Linked DNA regions of Homo sapiens: regions 1, 3, 4 and 5 are each reported to be linked to region 2. The links are microRNA targets in miRTarBase. Many come from high-throughput screens and were not tested one by one. Region 2 holds a microRNA gene; each other region holds the end of a gene's coding sequence.
Evidence for each region. Region 2 holds the annotated microRNA hsa-miR-3938 (AAUUCCCUUGUAGAUAACCCGG, at 1,651-1,672, shown strand). A microRNA usually pairs through its seed, bases 2 to 8, with sites in the 3' UTR of a target mRNA and lowers its output. Matches are read on the target gene's strand: a 7mer-m8 pairs with bases 2 to 8, a 7mer-A1 pairs with bases 2 to 7 and ends in A, and an 8mer does both.

Region 1 (3,000 bases), not on the chromosome of region 2:
AGTGTTCCTCAGCTTCTGCCAGGGTGGGGGCTTGAGACTAAGAATGGAGGTATAGGCAGAGGTGAGGGTTTCAGCGTGGGTTTCAAGTCTGTCTCCCTGGTTCTGTGGGTAATTCTCAGGAGGGTGGAGGGAAGGGAGGGTGCAGGGATTGGTTGGGGTTGCCCTGTCCATCGGGCTGTGTCGCTGACATAAAATCCAGATAGAAAAGCTAAGAACTCTACCGGTATTCTACCCCGGAATACCCCGCCTCCGCTGCCAGGAGGGAGAGCTCCCAGATATCCAGGTCAGACTCTCCTCATTCTTGAATTATCTGCACAGTCCCTCCCACGTCCCAGCCTAGAAAAGCTTCTGACTCCTGGGCCTCAAACTGCAATGCACCTTTCAGTGCAATAGGAGCTATCCAATCTCCAGCCGCGTCCATCCGCCCACTCGAGCCCACCTGTTTGCGGACCACAGAGCGGCAGCACATCCCTACACGGGGCTGTCAGGCAAGGTCAACGCGCTAGAGTGCAAGAGCCTTTGCTTTGCGGATTGCCGCAGCGCCGGGTGTGGGCGCAGGTGGGGATAGAGTGCTGGGTTTTGAAAGAGTGACCCGCAAAGCTGAGGGTGCAGAGCAAGACACAGATCTGGGAAGAGCAGAGAAAAAACGCTCCTGCTTCTGAACCCCTCCCACCTCGCATCACCTGACAAGTCTCTCAAGGTCTGGTGTCGGGAAACCCCACCTCTTCAAAGCCCCGCCCTTCGAAACACCAGAAAGTAACCCCCCTGCCCGGCCCTGCTTTCCCCCTACCCCCTGCCAAGCTGCAGTTTTTTTTTTGTTTTTTTTTTTTAACTGGGTGAGGGCTAGAAGGAGCGGTAGAGATTGATTCATTCTAGCCAAACCACCTCTCTTAACAAAAAAAGGAAACTGAACCCCGATTGGCGAAATGTCTTGCTCAAGTCCATAAAGCGAGACCACCGGCTGATCTGGACCCTTAGAATCTACCCACCCTTCTCCACCTCCCCTCCCCAGCTACCTGTTGCCATGGTGATGAGAACAGGCTCCTGCTGAGGCTCTGGCTGTGGTCGCAAGAGGCTGGAGAGGCTGAGGACTGGGCTGGATATGCTGACCATCAGCCAAGCCCCATCCAGGGCCCGCGGGCAGTTCTGCGCGGGGGTCAGGCCGCTGGCCCATTTCGCAGAGGCGGGGAGAGGCACGAAGCGGCTCATCTCGCAGTGTGGTGCGGGGGCGCCCCGGGGATACCGCCTGAAGGCAGCCTGGAGGGCGCCCGCGGGGTCTGAGTGTAGAGAAGGAAGTTGCAGCTGTAGAGTCACCGCCGGGAAAGGGGCTGGAAGGGCAGCGTTCGGGGAACTTCAAATGCACAGACTACCCCGTAGTGAGACTCACTTTACAAAGGGGAAGCTGAGGCCTGAGGTCACTGCCGGATCTAAAGAGGAGGGGGTTTCGGTGGAGGCGACAGAGGTAGGGGGGCGGCGAGTCCCTAGAGACTCACCGTGTACACTGAGATAGAGCTCAGGGTCGAGGTCCGGCCGGGGCGGCGGTTCCCCCGGTCCCTGGCGCAACAGCAGTGCACCGGGTCTCTTGGCCAGGCCCTTTCCGCTCGCATCCTCCACGAACCAACACTCGATCACCGCGGGTCCTGCTGAGACGGCGGTCGCCAGGCCTGGCGTATAGGGACGCGAGTGAGGAGCGGTTTGTATGTCTGGTGACCTGCCCCACTCCCACCCTGGCATCGGCTCCAGTGGGGCCACCTCCCTCCGCTTCCCTCTAGTTCTTGGGCGATGAGTCGCGGGGTTCGCTCACCCAAAGCCACAGCGAGGAGCAGAGACAGGGACTTCATGGCGCTGCGACCTCCTCAGCCATGAAGCCTCCTCTTCCTCCTTTCACTTTCACTTTCCTCCAAAGGGCGGCATGAGGGGCGGTGGAAATCCCCGCTCTGGTTAGGTGAAGGTGCCTGGGGGACCGGTGTTTCCCCACTGGCCAGGCAGGGACCCGGGTAGATCCTCTCCAGTTCTCACCAGGACACCCCAGCCTTACCGCGCCCTCCTGGACTACCCAGCAGCCCCGAGTTCGAGCCCTCCCCAACCCCAGGCCCTCCCCCGCCCCCCAACTCCTGTGTGTGCTCTCCAACATCCACTTGCCCGAAAACCATTACTCCGGCTTCCCCCTATCTGTGCCGCGTCCCCAGCAAACACACGGGTTATCGGGAAGCCAAGTAAATGACCAATAAATATTTTAATCACTGTTAAAAAAAATAAAAACCTTGTACTCCTACGACTTACTCCCTCCTTGTCTCCACCCACTCCTCCATGAGAACCGAGTTGGGAATTTCCACGGGAAGTCGGGGGTGGCGGGGAGAGACAGGGTAGAAATAAAGAGCGCATCCTTGAGAGGGGGTAGGTTCTAGGACAAGGGTGGGGCTCAAAGGCCTTGTCTCCACGACAACACAAACACAGACTTCAGGCACAGACTACAACCACCTGACCCCTGACCCTGTGACTGCAGGATGTTCAACACGCCCCCTCTCCCTCCCTCCATGTGCAATCTACTCTGTGGAGCAGGGGCTTCAGTGTACCCATCAGAGGGAAAGGAAGGGTTTAGTTCTGGAAATACCTTGGGGGGGAGGGGTTGAGTAGTAGAATGGGCGGGCGATGGTGAAACTGTGGTTCCCCTTCCAGAATATATACAAGTCCACAGAGATAAAGGAAGACAGTAAGTGTGGTGGGAGATCACCCGGGGGCCACAGCGCCCTTGCATCGTGCTCCTTATTCCCTTTCCCGAAAGCTACCCCACCCCAGTAGCCTGCCCCTTCAGTTTGCTCCTCCACCTCCACCGAAGCCCATCTCCACCTTGTGGACTCTGGGTGGGGACCAGACACGTCTGCTGGACGGGGGCGTGGCCGCACTCGCTTCGTCGCCGCTGCCCCCGCCCACTCCGGGAGACTCTCTCTTGGACGGCAAGGATGGCCCCGTGGGAGTCCCAGGCCCAGGTACGGCCCC
Region 2 (3,151 bases):
TCTCGTGCCTCAGCTTCCCAAGTAGCTGGGACTACAGGCGCCTGCCACCATGCCCAGCTAATTTTTGTATTTTTAGTAGCGACGGGTTTTTACCATATTGGCCAGACTGGTTTCAAACTCCTTACCTCAGGTGATCGGCCCTCCTCGGTCTCCCAAAGTGCTGGGATTACAGGTGTGAGCCGCCGCGCTGGGCCTGCTTCGTGCTTTGTGGAATTAGGCCTTGTGATAATTTGGTCTAATTTAGGCCTTGTGGTCAAAGCATGTAACATAAAATTTATCATTTTCACTGTTTTCAAGTGTCCAGCTTAGTAGTGTTAAGTACATTCACATTGTTGTGCAGCCATCACCACCACCCACTTCTGTAATTCTTTTCATGTTCCCAAACTGAAACTCTGCACTCATTCTATAATAACTGCACGTTCCTCCTCTCCCTGGCCCCTGGCAGCCGACATTATACTTTGTCTGTGAATTTGACTCCTCTAAGTATTTCAAGTAAGTGGAATCATACAATATTTGACCTTTTGTGACCAGCTTATTTCACTTAGCATAATGTCTTCAAAAGTGATGATGTTTGAAATAAGCAGATTAGAGTATATCTAATTCAATTCATACTTATATTTCCTGAGTGCTAGTGCTTTCTTTTTTTTTCTTTGTTTATTTGAGACAGGGTCTCACTCTGTCTCCCAGGCTGGAGTGCAGTGGCACAATCATGACACTCATGGCAGCCTCAACCTCCTGGGCTCAAGTCATCCTCCCCTCTCAGCCTCCCAAGTAGCTGGGATTGTAGATGCTACCACTATGCCTGGTTAATTTTTAATGTTTTGTAGAGACAGGGTCTCACTATATTACCCAGGTGGGTCTTGAAGTCCTGAGCTCAAGTGTTCTTCCCACCTCAGCCTCTCAAAGTGTTGGGATTACAGGCATGAGCCACCACACCCAGCCTCCTGAGTGCTTTCTATGTGTATCTTTTAATTTTCAGTTGGTTGATTCATCAAGCTTCCATGTCCCATGAATCACATGGTTGGACGGTCGAGGGTGGGTGGATATGCTGTCACCTTAGATCAGGAGTTCTCAACCAGGGGCGATTGTGCTCCACAACCCACCCCAACCCTGACCCAGGAATATTTGACAACTGGAGACATTTTTCGTTGTTAAAACTGGACAGTGGGATGGGGAGGAACCAGAAGGTATGCTACTGGCATGTATAGGGCAGAGGCCAGCGATGCTACTAAACATTCTGTAGTGCACAGGACAGCCTCCTGCAACAGAGTATTAGCCCATCCAAATGTCAAGGTGCCAAATTCAAAAACTCCTATAAAGGGCTAATGACTATGCCAATAATTTAGGGGGGAATATCTGGAGAAAAATGCAGTATGTATTTTTATTGAGTAATTTTGAAACAAATTTCTATGCTGCCATCAATTTATTACTAATTTAGTGAAATGTCTTAAATGTTGAGAGTTCAGTTATGAGTAAATGCAGACTGAGTTCCTCCTCTCATGGAGTAACTTCAGGTATAAAAATGGAAGGAGTCAAAAGAAAAGAATCCATGTACCTTTACCCTCATTAATTCTGCTGCAAGATTTTTTTAAAGGAATTTTTAACCCGATCACTAGATTATCTACAAGGGAATTTTTTTTTAATTTAAAAAATTCCCTTGTAGATAACCCGGTGGTCAGGTTGGATGGCTCCATGGAGGTCATGAGGTGTAGAGCTGTAACTAGGAGAACTTGCTGTTGTGCCTCTTCTGTTACTAAGTGGCTATGTGACATTTGGTAGTTCTGATTATCCCTCTGGGCCATATTTATCTTACCTATAAAATAAGGGATTTGTATTACATATAAAAATCTATGTCTTTGGCATTAGTGAAATACAACAAATAATTCTAAGCTAGTAGTTTATTCTTGTGGTGTAATTACTGTAAAGCACATTTTACTACATCAGTTTTTTTGTTTTGTTTTGTTTTCGAGACAGAGACTCACCCTGTCACCCAGGCTGGAGTGTAGTGGTGCGATCTCAGTTCACTGCCACCTCCGCCTCCCGGGTACAAGCAATTCTCCTGCCTCAGCCTCCTGAGTAGCTGGGATTAGAAGAATGCGCCACCACGCCAGCTAATTTTGTATTTTTAGTAGAGATGAGGTTTCACCATGTTGGTCAGGCTGGTCTCAAACTCCTGACCTCAAGTGATCCACCCGCCTGGCCTCCCAAAGTGCTGGGGTAACAGGCGTGAGCCGCTGTACCCGGCCTGTTTTAGCAATAAATTAATATGTTAAGCCTAAAACAAACTGCCAGTAAGGACACCATGTTCTGTGCAAAGGGCCCAAGACCCTGGGCTCTCTCTGTTGTCATATCTTCTCCTTATTAGGCTGAGCTCCCATGGCCAACAATGGTGTGACACCCATGTGATCCAAAGGATTCTTTTTTTTTTTTTCTCATGCAGTTTTGTTGTGGTCAACTCTAATGAGAGTAGATGGGATTTTTGGATTTTTTAAAAGTTAGGTGGGCAGGAAAAGCAAAAAATATGTATTTATAATAAAAACTATTTTTTAAAACTCTAGATGAGAGAGGTGAGGAACAAGTATCTAAAACCAAAGCTCTGGAGTCCAGTTATTAACATGCCTCACATAATGATAATGGGAACCAAACTAAATAAAGCCCTGGTGATCTTCAAGTTTGTGGGTTGGGCACGCAAGCCAGAAAAAATTTTGTTATTTCCTTGGAATGCGTTGTGTGTCATTCTCCAGTGCATTCCCTCTAGTTGTGTGTGTGTGTACATGTTTAAATAAAGACAATGACAAAATAATTGATTGTAAAGAGTTGTAGCAAACACCATTATCTGAAGTGTAGTTTAAGTGGAGAGAGGCTGGACCATAGAGAATGCTGAGAATAAAGCCTGGACTCTGGGGAGGCCACGTAGGAGCCTGCTCCAGGCCAGTACCCACTGTTGTCCTGTTACCATGTGCATTCTCATCCTGCCACCAACTCCCAGCATGGGCTTAAAAAAATCATTATCTAGTATTTTTTCTTAGAGATGGAAGTAAGTTTTCTTCCCAAGGTCAGAGCTTTTCCAAGAATGTGCCAGCAGTCTCTGCAGTCTCTGAATTTCAAACAACATCTGATGGGGTCTGGATTTTGAGCATGGACTTCTGTC
Region 3 (3,000 bases), not on the chromosome of region 2:
CTCTTGCTTGCCCATCCAGTTCTATATCCAATAATGAGTTCGTCCAATTTCAAATGGGTATTTACAGAATCTCTAATCTCAAGACAGTAACACTTGATTTTCAGAGGATCGGCATGATAGGAGATGATTGGTTTTTTGAAAAATTCTGATTATAAACTACATGCTGGAACATTAACATGGATGACTGAACACATTCTTTTATGCTTCTAGAATCCCATTGAAATGACTGGAGAAATATTAAAATAAAAATAATAGCAGAGTTGGAAAACCAGAAATTTGAACAGTGAAATTTCTGGAAGATAAGAAGCAGATGATTTAAGTACCAGTTAATTAAAGGATGGAACAGCTAAGCCATTCCACTCATCTTTGGAGCATCTGATTCTGGAGTTTGCCACCAGGCTAAGAAAGCAGCTATCTGAAGTGGGAGCTCTGACCCAAGAAATGCTGGGATCGGAGAATAAGGGAATTATCCAAAATGGCTCCGAAGAGGAACTGAAGTTAAGCTGCCCACATGATCTCTCTAACTATGATGACCTGCCACTTCCGTTTATAATCACCATATAAGTGCCTGTAATCATTTGTGTTCATTAAAAGTGAACCAGAATTCCCATTTGGATGAAAAAATAACACTTCCAACTTTAATCTTAGGCCCTCATTTATAAATATGGACAACCAAGAATCATCAAATTTGAAGAAAACCAGTAACATAAAAGGAGGCATGAAATTAAAATTAACCTGTTCAAGAAGATAGTTACTAGGAGAAACATGAAATTTTTAAATTAATGAATCAAAATCTTCAGCAATTCATAAAGATACTGTGTTCATAAAGAATAGGATGCCATGAAAAAAATATTTAGAGTTTCTGGAAATTAAAAATTTGATTATGAAACTGAAACACTCAGAAGATGGACTACACAGCAGAATGGATTCATTTGAAGCTTAAATTCATGAAATGGAAGGTATTAATTGGTCTTAGACGTTTCATCAGCAACTTAATTACTTAGAAAAAATCTTTCTCAGAGTAACTAAGCAAAATGAACAATGAACCCATTAACGTGTGGTTTTGTTTTTTGGGTTTTTTTTTTTTGAGTCAAGGTCTCACTCATGTCACCCAGGCTGGGGTGTAGTGATGGGATCACAGCTTATTGTAACCATGAACCATTGGGCTTAAATTATCTTCCCACCTCAGCCTCCCAAGTAGCTGCAATGTACCACCATGCCGAAGTTTTAAAAAATTATTGTAGAGTTGGGTTCTTTCTTTCTTTTCTTTTTTTCTTTTTTTCTTTTTTTTTTGAGACGGAGTCTCGCTCTATTGCCCAGGCTGGAGTGCAGTGGTACAATCTCAGCTCACTGCAACCTCCTCGATCTCAGCTCACTGCAACCGTGAAGTGATCTTCCTGCCTCAGCCCCCCTAGTAACTGGGATTACAGGCACACACCACCATGCCTGGCTAATTTTTGTATTTTTAGTAAAGACGGGGTTTCACCATGTTGGCCAGGCTGGTCTCGAACTCCTAACCTCAGGTGATTCACCCACCTCGGCCTCCCAAAGTGCTGGGATTACAGGCATGAGCCACTGCATCCGGCCAAGATGGGTTCTTTCTTAGGCTGGTCTTGAACTCCTGGCCTCAAATGATCCTCCCACCTTGGCCTCCCAAAGTGCTGAGACTACAGACCTGAGCCACTGTGCCCAGCCCCATGAAAGATGTTTAGATCAAATAAACTGATAAAGATATTGATAAAGATATGAGACAAACTACTTCAGCTTTGTGACCTGCAAATCCCCTTTTATAATCACCAGAGGTGCCTGTAGTCAGAAAAAGTCTAAATAAATACTAATGACATATGAAAACAAAGTCCAACCAAAGTTCTAGGTTTGAACATGAATGGAGGCATGGCAGGACACAGAAAGTGAAAGCTTGTCCTAGATATTGTCTTATTCATGGGAAGGATACAGGTAGTGTTTGATTCTAGGTATTGATTGAAAAAATATATTAAAATATATATAAAGTTAAGGGTATGTTAGTAAGGATAGGTTAGGTGATGTTGCATTAACAGCTCCCAAATTTTAATTACTTTCAACAACATAGGTTTATTTGTGCCCATGCAGTTTGCCTTTGGCAGATTGGCTAGAGGCCCCTATTCAACATCAACCTCAATCTGGAAGCGAGGCTGGTGGAACGTCACTATTTGGAACATTGCTGGTTGCAGTGTCCAAGGAAAGACAGTATGATGCAGCATATATTGTGACTTAAAGCTTCTGTCTAGATGTGACATATGTCACTTCTGTTCACATTTCTTTGGCCAAAGAAAGTCACATGGTTATGCCTGAGTTCAGCAGACCAGGGAAGTGCAGAATTGCCATTTGCCATGAGAAGAGAGGGAAGCAAATGTATGTCAACAACTTTAATAGCTACAAAACTACCTGGAAAGAGGGAATGGAATTTTTAGGTCCAACAAGACGGGAAAGAAAAAGAAACAAGCTACATAGAAATAAAAAATCCACAATATAGCAAGATCAAGTTTTTTACTCATAATAAACATGAACAGGTTAAATTCTGGAATCCTTAGGCTTGAGTAAAAACATGAAATCCCACTGTGTGCTATTTGCAAAATCTAAAACGCTGTCATAGATTATAAAGAGATGAACAAAAATATACCAGGCAGATGCTAAAGAGTAAATGTGGCTGTGTTAGCTGCAGACTAAATAGAACCCAAGGTGAAAATTGGTAAAGGGGACAAAAGCTTCTTTTGGCTGATAAGTACAGTGTTGCAGAAGATTTTTTAAAAAAATATATCTGCAATTTAAAAACTTGATGTTAGGCCGGGCGCAGCGGCTCACGCCTGTAATCCTAGCACTTTGGGAGGCCGAGGTGGGTGGATCACCTGAGGTCAGAAGTTCAAGACCAGCCTGGCCAACATGGCAAAACTCCGTCTCTACTAAAAATACAAAAAAAAAAAAAAAAAATTAGCTGGGTGTCATGGCGCATGCCTGTAATCC
Region 4 (3,000 bases), not on the chromosome of region 2:
GTAAATTAACACATTCTATGAAATGCCTTCTCAGTATCTGTTGAGAGTTCATATGATTCTTCTCCTTTAAACTGTTAATTTGATTGATGCATTTCCTATTAACTGAACTGGTTTGGCATTCTTGGGATGACTCTTACTATGTCACTCTTTGGGTATATGGCTGAATTCTATTTGCTAGTATTTTAACTATAATTTTTGTTTCTATATTCATGAGTAAGACTGGTCTGAAGTTTTCTTTTTTTTTTTTTTTTTTTGACGGAGTTTCGCTCTTGTCACCCAGGCTGGATGGCACGATCTTGGCTCACCGCAACCTCTACCTCCTGGGTACAAGCAATTCTCCTGCCTCATGCCTCAACCTCCCAAGTAGCTGGGACTACAGGTGTGTGCCACCACACCCGGCTAATTTTTGTATTTTTAGTAGAGATGGGGTTTCACCATCTCGAACTTCTGACCTCATGATCCACCTGCCTCGGCCTCCCAAAGTGTTGGGATTACAGGCGTGAGCCACCGCACCCAGCAGAAGTTTTCTTTTTTCAACTATCTGTATTTGATTTTGGTGTTAAAATTTATTCTGACTTAATAAAATAAATGAGTACAGTTCATGGATTGTATTACATCCATATAATAAATAACACTGGTATTACTCTTTCTTTAAAAGATAGAACTAAGCATGAACTCTTCTGAGCCTGGAGCATTTTCCCATTATAGATCTTTAATAGCTTTTTTGAGTTTTTCAATGTTAACTATCCTACCAAGTTTTCTACTTCTTATTGCAGTTTTCATAACTTAAGTTTATTAGAAAAGCATCCACCTCCTCTTTTTAAAAAATATGTTGATTAGAGTTGTATGAGGTATCTTTTTATCACTTAAAAAATCATATTGATATCTGTGGTTATGTCTCCTTTCTCATTCTGGATCAGGCAGTCTTACATGGAGGGAAATCTTGAAAAATGTAGATTCCACATGGCCATTTATTTTCTAATATGGATGACATAGCAACTCAGGGAAGCAGACTTCTTTCCAAACATTGAAATAATTAAAACCTTGGGATTTAGTGTCTAGGACACTTGCAAGGAAATTTATATGAAAAAAATGAATATTCTTGAATTAATTTGCAGAGGGATAGAGAGAAAAGAAATTCTCCTTCAGTGGTCTACGCATGAAACATTTCTGAGTTATACAACCTGTATATAGAATAGTGTATCTAGAATAGTGTAGCAATGCTACTAATTTGCTACAAGATATTTTAAGCAAGACTAAGAAAATATGAACAGTGTACTGTACACCAGGGTGACACTACATTTTGTCAAATAGTTTACAGTGTTTCATTTACCCAGTATCAGGTTCTTAAACTATTCCTTAGCTTGCATTTTTAATATAAATAACTACATTTTAGTAAAATTTTTGGCCAAATTATCCAAATACATTTAAAAACACTGCTTTATTATTTCTGCAGAGGACAGTAACAACCTCTATAGCCATTTACATGTATTACAAAAAGGTGGAAAAATGTAGCTGGTATAATAAAGTTCTTTTAACAATAGTGGGCCATGTTGTTGTTATTTTTTTGTATTGTTAAGACATCAAAAGACAATGATGATATTTAAAGTGGAAAAGTTTTCTGAATGGCATTCTATATGTTGTGTGACATGTGTCTGATATTCACATTTTATGTTAATTTCACATTTACAACTCCAAAATACAAATAATGCTGATTGTATGGCTCACTGTGGAATATACCAGAGTATGCCTTTAAGTCTCTTCACAGATATTTTGTATTCTGCTGTTATTCCATTTAATACATTTTTAAACGTTTACATGCCAGGGTGTCCATGCTTATGTTTGAGAAAGTATTTTCTAGAAAAGTTTGTATCACAATTAGATCATGATTTCCATTATGATACAACACTGTCGGTTGGGCGCGTTGGCTCATGCCTGTAATCCCAACACTTTGGGAGGCCAAGGGCGGGGGGTTGGGGGGTATCACGAGGTCAGGAGTTCGAGACCAGCCTAGCCAAAGAGACCAGCCTGACCAACATGGTGAAACCCCATCTCTACTAAAAATACAAAAATTAGCCAGGCGTGGTGGCAGGTGCCTGTAATCCCAGCTACTTGGGAGGCTGAGGCAGGAGAACTGCTTGAACCTGGGAGGCTGAGGTTACAGTGAGCCGAGATAGTGCCATTGCACTCCAGCCTGGGAAACAGAGAATACAACTCAAAATAAATAAATAAATAAAATAAAAACACACTGTTCAAATTCATTAAAATGATAAGATTTCTCCTAAGGATAAATTCCCTACATACCGGCCAGGCGCGGTGGCTCACGCCTGTAATCCCAGCACTTTGGGAGGACAAGGCGGGCAGATCACAAGGTCAGGAGATCGAGACCATCCTGGCTAACACGGTGAAACCCCGTCTCTACTAAAAATACAAAAAAAAAATTAGCCGGGCATGGTGGTGGGCACCTGTAGTCCCAGCTACTCGGGAGGCTGAGGCAGGAGAATGGCGTGAACCCGGGAGGCAGAGCTTGCAGTAAGCCGAGATCGCGCCACTGCACTCCAGCCTGGGTGACAAAGTGAGATTCCAACTCAAAAAAAAAAAAAAAAAATTCCCTACATACCATGAAACCAGATATTTTGCTCAAGTATTTCCCACAATTATTAAGTTTTCATTCCTGTAGGCATTCTTCCGAGCATGAATTTTCTGATGTCTGCTGAGGTTTGGCTTCTGGTAGAAAGCTTTCCCACATTCATTGCACCCATAGGGCTTCTCTCCTGTGTGAGTTCTCCAATGTTTATTGAGGCATGACTTCTGGCTGAAGGATTTTCCACATTCTCTGCAACGATACGGTCTTTCTCCTGTGTGCATTTTTCGATGTACATTGAGGTATGACTTCTCACCAAACGATTTCCCGCATTCACTGCAGACAAAGGGTCTCTCTCCTGTGTGTGTTCTCTGATGTTCTGTGCGGTGTGACTTCTGGGTAAAGGCTTTCCCACA
Region 5 (3,000 bases), not on the chromosome of region 2:
TTGCCTGCTGCTGATCTACTGCTGTGTGGCTCAGCTCCTAACAGGCCATGGGCCAGTGCCAGTCCACAGCCCAGGGGTTGAGGGCTCCTGTTGTAGCACCTGAGTTGACCAACAGTTAATGTGTGGGTGGGGATTGGGATCGGGCCCATGCTCTTTTAGTTGTCTGACTGTGCTTTCAGTATTATTTTTGTAGACGTTGGCCCCATCAGGTATGGTGAGAATAAGCTCTCTAGGCCTGTATGATGCCTTACACCCCTCCTTTTCTTTTCCAGATACTTCTAGGACCTAACACAGGGCTCTCAGGAGGAATGCCAGGGGCTCTACCCTCACTTCCTGGAAAGATCTAGATTGTTATTGCTGTTTGAGCTGTCTCAGTGGGATAAGTTTGAAATTCAAGTGTTTGAACTGCTGATAATTTGGATTTTTTTTTTTTTTTAACTTTGGCACATTGATCTATCTAAACCTGGTGGGGAGAATTATCCCCACATTGTCTCATGGAAAGACTCAACTTGCAACTGTGCCCTCCACACTATCCTTACTTCTGTCTCCACTCTGATACCAGAGTGCAGCCATGCAGATGGTTATTCCAGCTCTGGTCACCCGACTCCTTTCACCAAATTGCTCCTAACTGGAAGATCTCACTTTCCCCTTGTGGGGTAGGAACCGATGCCAGTGGGAGGGATGTGCCCCTGACCATTAACGACTGTTTTTTTTTTTTTTTTTTAAAGAATGGAGTTGTTGGGGCAGGACATGCACACAATGTGAAACAGACAAAATGCATTACACCTGTAGTGTAAAGTGGCCACTATGAATCCCTATGTATGAGAGGAGGGAGGCAGGCTGCAGCTTCAGCCACAGAATGGGGACTATGGAAGACAGCAGGAGCTCATTTCCTCTGCACATTTTGGCTGTTAGACCTGTGTGTGTGTTTAAAAAAAGAGAAGTCAGTGCTCACTTTTTGTATTTAAATATTAAAAATGATTCCAACTGAAAGTGTCATCCTAAGTACCTTGAAATGAGACCACGTCAGAGACATGTACTGCCCCTCACATTTTCTCACCTAAACCAGCAGCACCTCCATCTTAACAGCCATAGGCCCAAATTGTTTCCAAGTGAAAATTCATTTTTAGCCAAGTACTTCATAGCAATCTTTGCCCTGAATTTAGGCAGTCACTTTGAGATCCATCAGCCTAAAACAAAGGATTGGGTCTATGTACTTCTTTAGTCTATAATGACACTGTGTAATTATAAAGTATTTGTAGGGAATAACATAGTACTGATTTCTGGGGAATAGGGGAGGGGGACAGAATTTTTTTTTTTTTTTTTTTGCCTGAGATCAGGTCTCACTGGAGTACAGTGGTGTCGTTTGGGTTCACTGCAACCTCTTACCTCCCCTCCAACTTGGCCTCCTGGGTAGCTAAGACTACAGGTACACGCCACCGTGCCCAGCTAGTTTCTTTTATTTTTGGTAGAGTCAGGGTTTCGCCTTGTTGCCCCAGATAGTCTTGAACTCCTGAGTTCTAGCCATCCACCCGCCTCTGGCCCCTCAAAGTGCTGGGATTATAGGCGTCACCCACCACGCCCAGCCAGAGTAAGCCTTTTGTGTGTTTATCAGATCAACCAACACTACAATCTAGGTGGTACTGTTCCCATTTTACAGAAGAGGAAACAGCCACAGAAAGGTAATTGCTCAAGGCTGCAGAGTTAAGTGCTAGACCTGGATTCAAATCCAGGCAGTCCAGCTACAGAACACTGCTGCTGTGCGCTCGGGATGGTGGGGCTGGGCCCAGGCCCGCTGGGTATACATGATCTTTCACTTGTTAACTAGGGAAAAACACTAGTCACCAGTGTGGTACAAACTTGTACTTAGGTGGATTCTTCAAATTGTCAAGATTAGTTTTTATAAATTAAAATAGACTGAAAAATGTCTTAGAGACATCTTTTGAACCAAATCCCATTTCAGTGACTATTTTGTCTGGATTTCTCAGGTGAAAGAGTTAATCAAAGAATGATATGTCTCTAAAAGATGACTTACGCTGGCAATGAACTCCTTTTAAAACAGCGTCATACTAAAGTTTATTTTTCTTTACACAATTATAGAATTCAGGCAGACAAGGAGACATATATGGAGTTTTCCATTTTTAATATTTGGTTAAACAAAATACATCTTTTGTAAACAAACGCAGCACAAGGCCAACAACAAAAAGGAATAAAAGCAAGAAAAACAAAAAGCCTAGGGTTGCCCGTTATTGGGCATCAGGGTCAGGCCTGTTCACTTCCTTAAAGGAAGTGGGGCTTTTTGCCCTTGGGCATCAGCATGGGTCCCTGTTCCTAAGCACCAGAATTGGATATGAACAGAGAAACCAGCCCTGAAATGTTTAAGCGTCTTTGCATATCCCATTGGCTCATGGACTCCAAGTGCATGGGGACTCTTTCAAGTGCCATTTGCACAGGCCCAAGTGGATTTGTGGAGAGGAGTTTCCTCCTCTACCCAAGAAATGGCTTACTATCTGACAGTGCCAGTGGCCCCAAGGTCCTGCTTGTGACAATCAGCAAGGTTGGCTGTAATGTCTGGCTGGTGGTGGTTGGAATGTCATTGTGCAGGGCAGGAAAAGAGCTCCCTGTGGTGCCAAGCAGGTCTGGTGTAGAAAATGGTGCAGAAGAGACTGCGGCCAGTTGCTGAGAAGATATAACGCAGTAGCCGCTTGGTGGCCTGTTACTCAGCATTAAAAAAACGGCCTTGTTGGATTGAAGATACATGTGCAGAAAAAGTGCTGGTGTCAACATGCACTCCAGTCACAGGGGGGAGAAAGCCCAGCTTCACCCCGTTAAGCTTGCTCAGGATCAACATGCAAGCCCCAGGCTGGCTTTGCTGCTGGAGAGAAGTCTGGCCAGTGGGACAGCTCTCAGACCTGCCACGACCATTGATCTGAGGGCCAGCAGGTCACCCCTGCCTGCCACCTGCCTTGAGGCAACCACATCCACTTTGGAGACACGCAT

Region 1: miRTarBase lists ZBTB22 as a target of hsa-miR-3938. Seed matches in the 3' UTR shown: 8mer at 2,768-2,775.
Region 3: miRTarBase lists CEP78 as a target of hsa-miR-3938. Seed matches in the 3' UTR shown: 7mer-m8 at 461-467 and 7mer-m8 at 2,433-2,439.
Region 4: miRTarBase lists ZNF793 as a target of hsa-miR-3938. Seed matches in the 3' UTR shown: 7mer-m8 at 2,608-2,614 and 7mer-m8 at 2,292-2,298.
Region 5: the mRNA of TOMM22 is a reported target of hsa-miR-3938. Seed matches in the 3' UTR shown: 8mer at 1,261-1,268 and 7mer-A1 at 1,287-1,293.

Annotation. Positions count from the first base shown.
Region 1 is chr6:33,312,201-33,315,200 of GRCh38, forward strand. ZBTB22 (zinc finger and BTB domain containing 22) reads right to left here. Exons shown (of 2, transcript NM_005453.5): 2 at 2,218-3,000. The coding sequence ends at 2,812. TAPBP (TAP binding protein) reads right to left here and starts at 1,878. Exons shown (of 8, transcript NM_003190.5): 1 at 1,805-1,878; 2 at 1,494-1,664; 3 at 1,017-1,277. The coding sequence starts at 1,841. RefSeq lists an enhancer at 2,432-3,000.
Region 2 is chr3:55,851,036-55,854,186 of GRCh38, reverse strand. It overlaps MIR3938 (microRNA 3938), which reads left to right and starts at 1,593; the gene lies at 1,593-1,695. The region is part of intron 14 of ERC2 (ELKS/RAB6-interacting/CAST family member 2); the gene reads left to right.
Region 3 is chr9:78,270,631-78,273,630 of GRCh38, forward strand. It overlaps CEP78 (centrosomal protein 78), which reads left to right. Exons shown (of 17, transcript NM_001330691.3): 17 at 211-3,000. The coding sequence ends at 221. Among named protein-coding and RNA genes, the nearest start is that of PSAT1, 25 kb to the right of the region's middle.
Region 4 is chr19:37,537,520-37,540,519 of GRCh38, reverse strand. ZNF793 (zinc finger protein 793) reads right to left here. Exons shown (of 8, transcript NM_001013659.3): 8 at 1-3,000. The coding sequence ends at 2,641. The region is part of intron 1 of LOC124904708; the gene reads left to right. Among named protein-coding and RNA genes, the nearest start is that of ZNF571-AS1, 9.9 kb to the left of the region's middle.
Region 5 is chr22:38,683,495-38,686,494 of GRCh38, forward strand. It overlaps TOMM22 (translocase of outer mitochondrial membrane 22), which reads left to right. Exons shown (of 4, transcript NM_020243.5): 4 at 273-1,927. The coding sequence ends at 347. JOSD1 (Josephin domain containing 1) reads right to left here. Exons shown (of 5, transcript NM_001360236.2): 5 at 2,049-3,000. Among named protein-coding and RNA genes, the nearest start is that of TOMM22, 3.0 kb to the left of the region's middle.